Homo sapiens: one gene and its partner. The protein of the gene in region 1 purifies or fractionates together with the protein of each later gene. This does not show direct contact. Each region holds a gene or a part of one and is shown on either strand. Other genes may lie near its edges. The genes, in order: AGPAT2 and ATP1A3.

Region 1 (3,900 bases):
CTTCTCTGTAAATCTGAAATTATTAAAAAATAAGATCTTCATTTATTTTTTATTTTTTTTGAGACGGAGTCTTGCTGTCACCTAGGCTGGAGTGCAGTGGCGAGATCTCAGCTCACTGCCATTTCCACCTCCCGGCAAGCGATTCTCCTGCCTCAGCCTAGCAAGTAGTTGGGACTACTGGTGTGCGCCACCACACCCGGCTAATTTTTGTATTTTTAGTAGAGACGGGGTTTCACCATGTCGGCCAGGCTGGTCTCAAACTCCTGACCTCATGATCCGCCCGCCTCGGCCTCCCAAAGTGCTGGGATGACAGGAAGGAGCCAGCGCGCCGAGCCCTCCTCTGTTTTGATTGTGGTATAACACGCACCACCTAAACAATATAATTGTACCCATTTCTCAGCACACGGTTCCGTGGCACTCGGCGCATTCACTGCCGTGTGGCCAGCACCACCCTCTAGCTCCAAAACTTTTCCTTTTTTTTTTTTTTTTAATCTAAGCTGCTTAGGGGTTGGATCGTGCACTGATACTTCTCTCAGCTGTGAAAGACACGGGGTACAAACCCCCGCCCAGCAGGCGGTGCTGAGCAGGCGCTGTGTCCCGCCGCCCACCACCGGCCCCTGGTCCTCAGGCCAGACAGATGGACGGACGGAGGCTGCCCCAGGCCAGCGGGAGGCTGTGGCTCTCTAGAACTCTGCAGCCCACAGTGTGGCTGGGGGAGAAAGGTATACCCTGGGGGTGGAAGAAAGTTGAAGTTGATGTCCTCAAGGGGACAAAGGGCCATCTGCACCAGCCACGTGAGGCCACCGCACTTCCCCCGCGGTGTCCCGTACATAGTTCAGAGCTTTCTGAAAGCTGGTGGGAAAGTCTAGACTCACTTTACAAGCGGTTCCTGGATGGGCGGGTGGCTCACGCCTGTAATCCCAGGACTTTGGGAGGCCAAGGCGGGCAGATCACCTGAGGTCAGGAGTTCAAGACCAGCCTGGCCACCATGGTGAAATCCCGTCTCTATTAACAATACAAAAATCAGCCAGACGTGGTGGCAGCTGCCTGTAATCCCAGCTACTCGGGAGGCTGAGGCGGGAGAATCACCCGAACCAGGGAGGAGGAGGTTGCGTTGAGCCGAGATGGTGCCATTGTACTCCAGCCTGGGTGACAGAGCAAGACTTCATCTCACACACACAAAAAAAGTGTTTCCTCAGAGAGGAAGGGACTGAACTAAGCCCTGCAGAGGCTCCTGCGGCCGAGGACACCCCCGGGAACCCAAGCAGAGAAAAATCGCCTTCTAAGCACAGAGGCCCCCTGCACCTCCTGTGTGCAAAGCCTCGAGACAAGGGCTCTACATGAGTCACCTCCTTTTGTTCTGACAGTAACCCCCCAGGGTAGGTACGATCATAACCCCCCTCTTCAGATGAGGAATGCGAGGTTCAAGGTTCAGCAAAGTTAAGTGACTTCCCCAAGGCCACACAGCAGGGAAGCCAGAACAGGCCTGAGCCCCCCTCGGAACCCTGCTTCGGAGCTGGCAGAGTCGTGCTGGGGCGGCGCGGGCCCCCAGTAGGACTCTAGGAGCTCATCCTGAGGCTCCCTCCCTCCCCCGGGCTCCGCAGTCCCCTCAACCCCTCAGCAGGGCTGGGAGCTTGCTCCGGCCTCCCCCAGCAGGAAGCTCAGAGCAGCCACTGTCCCCAGGCTTCCCCCACCAGCTTGCCCAGCCCAGTCCCTGTCCTGTGCCAAACACCCTGCCTCACTCAAACTCCCCTCCCACCAACCACAGGCGGACGAGGGGCTGCCCTGTCCTTTCCTCAAAGCCTGGGGCAGGTGTCGCTGTGCCAGACCAGGACACAGTCACACGGACCCCAAATCCAGGTCCTGGACTCCTTGCCTCCCCGGGGAGCAGGGGCAAAGCCAAGGTTGCCGGAAGCCTGGAGCTCAGGGAGCCCTGCTGGCCACTGCCAGGCGGGTGACTTGTGCCAGCTTTGCCCAGCAAGGCAGGAGGCCCAGGGAGCAGCCCAGCACCCAAAACTAAGTGAGGCTGAGCCCAGACTGGGCCCTTCTGGTGGCATCGGAGCAGTGGGCTCCTGCTGAGGGAAAGCCCAGGTGCTGCCTCAGTCTTTTTCAGGAGCCCTCAGACTGGAGTCCACTGGCCTCGAGCGAAGCCCCGTAAGAGACCCCTCTGGGGTCTGCAGGAACCCAGCCTCCTCAGACCGCCTGAGCTCAGCCCCCAGGCACCTGGGCTGCTCCCACACTCAGGCTCTGGGCCTGACGGGGATTTGGATCCCATTTCCCTTCTTCCCAGCTATGGCCTCGGGCAAAGCATTTGACCTCCCAGGCTCTTGTGGAAGGGTGTGCAGGCTTACATTCTATGAGGCGGAGACACCCGGGGCACCATCGGGCCAGGGCAGGACCTCCACCAACAGTGGCTGTGATGGGGATGACTAGGGGGTGGGGGGGAGGGGGGGAAGAATCCAAAATGGGTGGGGCCGGGCACGGTGGCTCATGCCTGTGACCCCAGCACTTTGGGAGGCTGAGGCAGACGGATCACTTGAGCTCAGGGGTTTAAGACCAACCTGGGCAACAGAGCGAGACCTTGTCTCAAAAAATAAAAAAAAAAGTCCAAAGTAAATCGAAGCAAAAGGCCCCTCAATGTGCCTAAGCCCCCAATCCCACCAGCACCTGGCTCAGGCAGCTGGGAGGCGGTTCTAGGTCAGGGCCCAGGCCACTGGCCAGGCTGTCCTCGTGGAAGGCCACTCGCTGACCCTTGCCTTGGTCCTGGGCTGGGACACTCCCAGGAGACCCAGCAGCTCTCTGAGCCAGGACTTGCCCATCTTCAGCTGCGTGAGCTCATTCAGGGCAGCCCCCTCCCCCTCTGCTGGGGCTCGCTGGGGCCACCGGGGACAGGGACCCCAGTGAGGAATCTGGTGTTTTCCGACAAGTGTCATCCAAGCTGCAGCACAAGGCGGGATGGGTCCATAGGGGTGCGGGGTCCAGCCCACACAAACACCCGGATGTGGGGGGTCCCCGTGACTCCTCAAAGCGGATGTGTAGGAGTGCAGGTGTGGCGGGCGGGAAGGAGGTGGGGCCAGAGAAGCCCTCCCATCCCTCAGTCAGGACAGCTCCAATTTCTGGGCCTGCACAGAGACACCTGGAGCGCTCTGGAGGACCAAGGTCACGGTCTCCCTTGGGACTAAGACCCCAGTGCTGTGGTGACACAGGGCCCCCGATGGCATCTGTCATCACCGGACATCTGTCAGAGGACCCGGGACCATGCACTGGCCGGCAAATCTGGGTCAAACCTTGCCCGACATCCCAAGTCCCCTGTGCGTTCTCCCCACACTGGGCGTGTGGTGTGGGCACGTGCTCCATGGGGACAGGAGCCTGCCCTGCAGCCAGGAGCTGCCACAACCACTAGGTCCCGGCCTCCAGATACCAGCAGAGCGTGGGGTTCAATTCGGGGAGCATCCTTAAGAGGAAGAGCACCCCTTTTCTGTCTGGGACCCTGAAAATGGTGGGAATAGAGGTCAAAGGAGCCGGAAACTAACTGCTGTTTCCCTAGGCTGCCCATCTGGTCTCCTTTGCTGTATGAAAAAGTAAACTTCTCTGTGGATTAAGCTGCTGTCTTGAGGGTTTTCTGATCCTGTAGCTGAACCCAGCTGTAGGACACGGAGCCGCTCTGGGCTTTGCTTTCCTCTGTCGAATGGATGTACCAGGGCATCGGCCCCTGGTGAGGAAACGTCCCCTGCAGCTCCACCGTAACTGCGCACACAGGGAAGGGCTCAGGGGACACCCCCTGCCTGGAAGGGGTCCGTGGTCTCAGCCCCAAGCCCGGTGGGAACGAAGGCTGCCTCAGAGGTTCTAGTCCCATCACTGTCCCTCACACGCTCAGAACTACGGTGTAGACGGTGGGGG
Region 2 (3,900 bases), on another chromosome or scaffold:
TCCCACGTCTGCTTCCCTCCCTCTCCCCTGTTCTGATTCCACAATGCCATCGCCTGGTGAATTCAAGCTGCTCTGACTTTCGTGGAGTTGAAAACTCCGTGATTAGATGGCTCTGAGATTCCGTGACTTCCAAGCCAGTGCCAGGCTAAGTTCCTGCAGTTTCGAGAGTCGCCTGGCAGCGCGCCCCAACAGAGGGGATGCTGTCCCAGCCGCAGTCCCCGTCTGGAAAGCAGGCACAACACACACACCGCTTCTCTCTCCCCACTGATATATTTGATAATTGTCCAGAACCAGAGATGGCATCAGCCGGGGGGCTGAAGGGGAGTAAAAAAGAGCCCAGGGAGGTGGCTGGGGCGGGAGGAATGGATAGAGGGGTGAGGAGAGGGAGAGAAACTGACACAGAAAAGAGAGAGGAGAGAGGTTTGGGGCAGGGGAGAGAAGCCAGCCAGAGTGGGGGCGGCAGGAGATAGTGGAGGGGGTGGGGGCCAAGGTGGGGCCACAGGAAGAGAGGGCTCCTCCCCCCAGAATACAAAATTGGGGGGACTGACAGGGGCGGTCCTGGGCCTGGGGGACGGGGAAGAGATGGGCGATGTGGTGGGGCTGAGGTCAGTAGTAGGTTTCCTTCTCCACCCAACCTGGAGAGACAAAGAAGGAAAGAAAGAGACAGAGTAAGAGATGGAGAGAGACAGGCAAGGCGAGCCGCCCAGCAGAGAGAGGGACAGAGAGGGAGAGAGACAAGGAAACCACACAGACAGAGACCCGTGAGAAGACAGAGTGGGTGCCCGGAGAGATGGGAAGAGAGAGAAGAGTGGGAACCAGGTGGCAGAGCCATCCAGCAGGGCGAGGGGAGCCTGGGACCAGCTGCCTGAGACCCTGCTGCCCCCCGCCCCCCTCGGCTGCCTTGCCGAGCTCCCTCACCCCCTGGGTTCCTGCGCAGGATGAGTTTGCGGATTTCGTCGTAGACGAAGATGAGGAAACTGTAGGGGAAGGCACAGAACCACCAGCTGGGCCTGCAGAGGGGAGAGCAGGAGGGCTTGAGTGCGGGGCCCTAACGAGAGGCAGAGTTTCAGGGGACTGGAGGGGACGCAGAGGGGCAGTCTCCCAGGATCCTTCGTGCTCACAGGTGGAGGGTGCCCTGGGCGGGGCTGGGGCCTGGGGTCTTCGGAGTAATCCGTGGTGGGAGCAGCCTATGGGGGAGGCTCGGGGGCATCAGAATGGGGACTGCAGTGGGGACACCAGGGGAGGTGGGGCCTGAGGTTCAGGCTGAGTCTAAGGGAAGGCTCCATGGCAGGCGCTGGTGTGGGCAGGGCTGGGGGCAGCGGGGCACTCACTTGAGAGGGTACATGCGCAGGGCCACGTCCATGCCGGGGCAGTAGGACAGGAAGGCAGCCAGGGCCGTCTCCTCAAACAGCCCGAAGATCAGGATCTTGTTCCTGGAGGCACAGAAGGGCAGGGCTGGGCCCAGAGAGCACCCACCCTGCACCTGCCACCCCGCAGAGACAGGGGGAGGCACAGTGCAGACACCCAGAGACAGCAGCACAGACACAGAGACAGAGAGGCAGAGACATAGGGAGAGACAGAGATGGGGAGACATGCCCCGACAGAGAGAGACAAAGATAGAGGCAGAGCGATGGTGACACAGAAAGAGACAAAAGACAGGGACAGACACAGAGACAGGGACAGACACAGAGACAGACAGGGACAGACAGAGAGACAGACACAGGGACAGACACAGAGACAGGGACAGAAACAGACACAGAGACAGGGACAGACACAGAGAGGCACTGGTATAAAAAGAAAAGGCCAGGGGCACCTCCACCACACACACAGAGGCTGAGAGAGAATCTAGGACACACAGGACCCCTTGAGAGAAAATCAGTGCAGTGGCAAAACCCAAAATGGGCTGGGCATGGTGGCTCACACCTGTAATCCTAGCACTCTGGGAGGCTGAGGCAGGAAGATTGCCTGAGCTCAGGAGTTTGAGACCAGCCTGGGCAACATGGTGAAACTCTACTAAAAATACGAAAAATTAGCCGAGCCTGGTGGTGCGTACCTGTAATCCCAGCTACTTGGGAGGCTGAGGCATGAGAATCGCTTGAACCCGGGAGGCGGAGGTTGCAGTGAGCCAAGATTGTGCCACTGCACTCCAGCCTGGGCAACAGAGCAAGACTCTGTCTCTAAATAAATAAATAAAAATTAGCCATATATGATGGTGCACACCTGTAGTCTCAGCTACTCAGGAGGCTGAGGTGGGTGGGTCACTTGAGCCCAGGAGGTCGAGGCTGCAGTGAGCTATGATTACACCACTGAACTCCAGTCTGGGTGACAGAGTGAGACCCTGCCTCAACAAAACAACAAAAAACCAAAGCAAGGACACAAGAGGAAGTACACAGACAGACAGACACTCGGACAGGACAGATGGCTGTCCAGTCACCATGTGCCCCCGGCCCTCACTTCATGCCCTGCTGGAAGACCGAGTTCCTCCGGGTCTTGCAGATGATCAGATCGGCCCACTGGACGACAACGATGCTCACAAAGAAGGCCGTGTGGCAGGTGAACTCCACCACCTTCCTCTGCTCGTATGTCTGCAGGAGCGGTGACCAGGGCACGGGACGTCAGTTAGTGGCACTGCAGCCCTAGCCGCCACCCCGACGTTCCGGTGCTCTTTGCCCCGCCCCATCCTGCATGGGGTCCTCAGGGCCTCAGGTGTGTCTTCCTTCTGCGGGCTCATAGTCCCGAGGGAGGAGTCAGGAGACGTACAAGGAAGAAGAAAGGTTAATGGTGATCTCACCATCCACCAGGGGCCAGGGAGGAGGATAAGGACCCTGTGGGCCTCCCAAGGAGGACAGACAGCAACTGGGCTTTGAAGGGACAGACAGAGGTGGGGAAGAAGGCCTGGCAGGGCAGAGAGCTCCAGCAGTGGGACACAAGGCTCCAGATGGGCTGGGCCAAGGGCATCCAGGAAGCCCCAGGTGCCCAGCAAAGGCCTTGATGCTGCCATGGGAGACTGAGGGGGCCATCGTAGGAAGTGGCCATGCATGGCTGGAACAGCTCACCCCGGGGATCTTACGGTGGGCAGAGACACAGCACCCTGCCCTACTCACCCACTGCTGCCCGTAACTGTCTTCCAGGTCATTGACGGTGCGGTCATCCCAGTTCAGCCGGATGCCCACCAGGTTGCCGGGCAAGAAGCCATTTTCTGCCAGGATCACAAAGTAAGAGAAGAAGCCACCGAGAGCCTGGATCATTCCTGGAAGGAGGAGAGAGGAAGCCGAGGAGAGGCTCAGATTGGGGCCAGCAGCCAACCCAGGGCACCTCAGAGGGCCCGGAGGCCTCCTTGGAGAGGGGAGTATGCCCTCCTGGCCCTGTTATCTGGACATTGGTTCCCAGAGGGTGACCTGAGGTCTCACTTGGTGGTGAGGCCCTGAGATGGGTGGGCCACCTGGGACAGGGGCTTTGGAGAGAGGGCTCTCCCAGAGGGATAACCTGGAGCCCCTCTCTCACCTGACCTAGGCCACCTAAACATCATGAATTCTTGGGGGATCCCCAGCTTGAGCTCCCTACGCAGGAATGACCTCCCTGGGCCTGGAACCACTGCCATGAAGTCTCTGCTTGCTGGGACAGCCCCCAAGGGTGGCTGCTCCACTCCTCTGGGGATCCGCACACATCAACAGCAGAGAGGAGGAGGTGGAGAAGGATGGGGTGCAGACCCCCCCCACAGATAGCTCACTGGTTGGTCCTGCCCACGTCTGCTCCCCTGAGTCAATGCCAGGGTCCCAAGCACCCACGGTGGGCCAGGCACTGCTCTAGGCCCGGCACTGGGTGGTAAGGAGATGGAGTCCCCGGTGCCTCACCAATCTGCCCGTAGGCCATGCTGATGAGTCTCTCATTGACCAATTT

The links.
Region 2: the proteins of AGPAT2 (region 1) and ATP1A3 purify together in Homo sapiens (co-immunoprecipitation; 2 studies listed by BioGRID and IntAct, with this or other methods). This does not show direct contact.

The regions. Positions count from the first base shown.
Region 1 is NC_000009.12:136,680,630-136,684,529, forward strand, and holds part of AGPAT2 (1-acyl-sn-glycerol-3-phosphate acyltransferase beta), read right to left. Parts: intron 1-3,900. UniProt on the Homo sapiens protein: Converts 1-acyl-sn-glycerol-3-phosphate (lysophosphatidic acid or LPA) into 1,2-diacyl-sn-glycerol-3-phosphate (phosphatidic acid or PA) by incorporating an acyl moiety at the sn-2 position of the glycerol backbone.
Region 2 is NC_000019.10:41,966,331-41,970,230, forward strand, and holds the end of ATP1A3 (sodium/potassium-transporting ATPase subunit alpha-3), read right to left. Parts: coding exon 3,855-3,900; intron 3,251-3,854; coding exon 3,105-3,250; intron 2,586-3,104; coding exon 2,455-2,585; intron 1,434-2,454; coding exon 1,332-1,433; intron 1,011-1,331; coding exon 919-1,010; intron 636-918; coding exon 607-635; 3' UTR 252-606; downstream 1-251. UniProt on the Homo sapiens protein: This is the catalytic component of the active enzyme, which catalyzes the hydrolysis of ATP coupled with the exchange of sodium and potassium ions across the plasma membrane.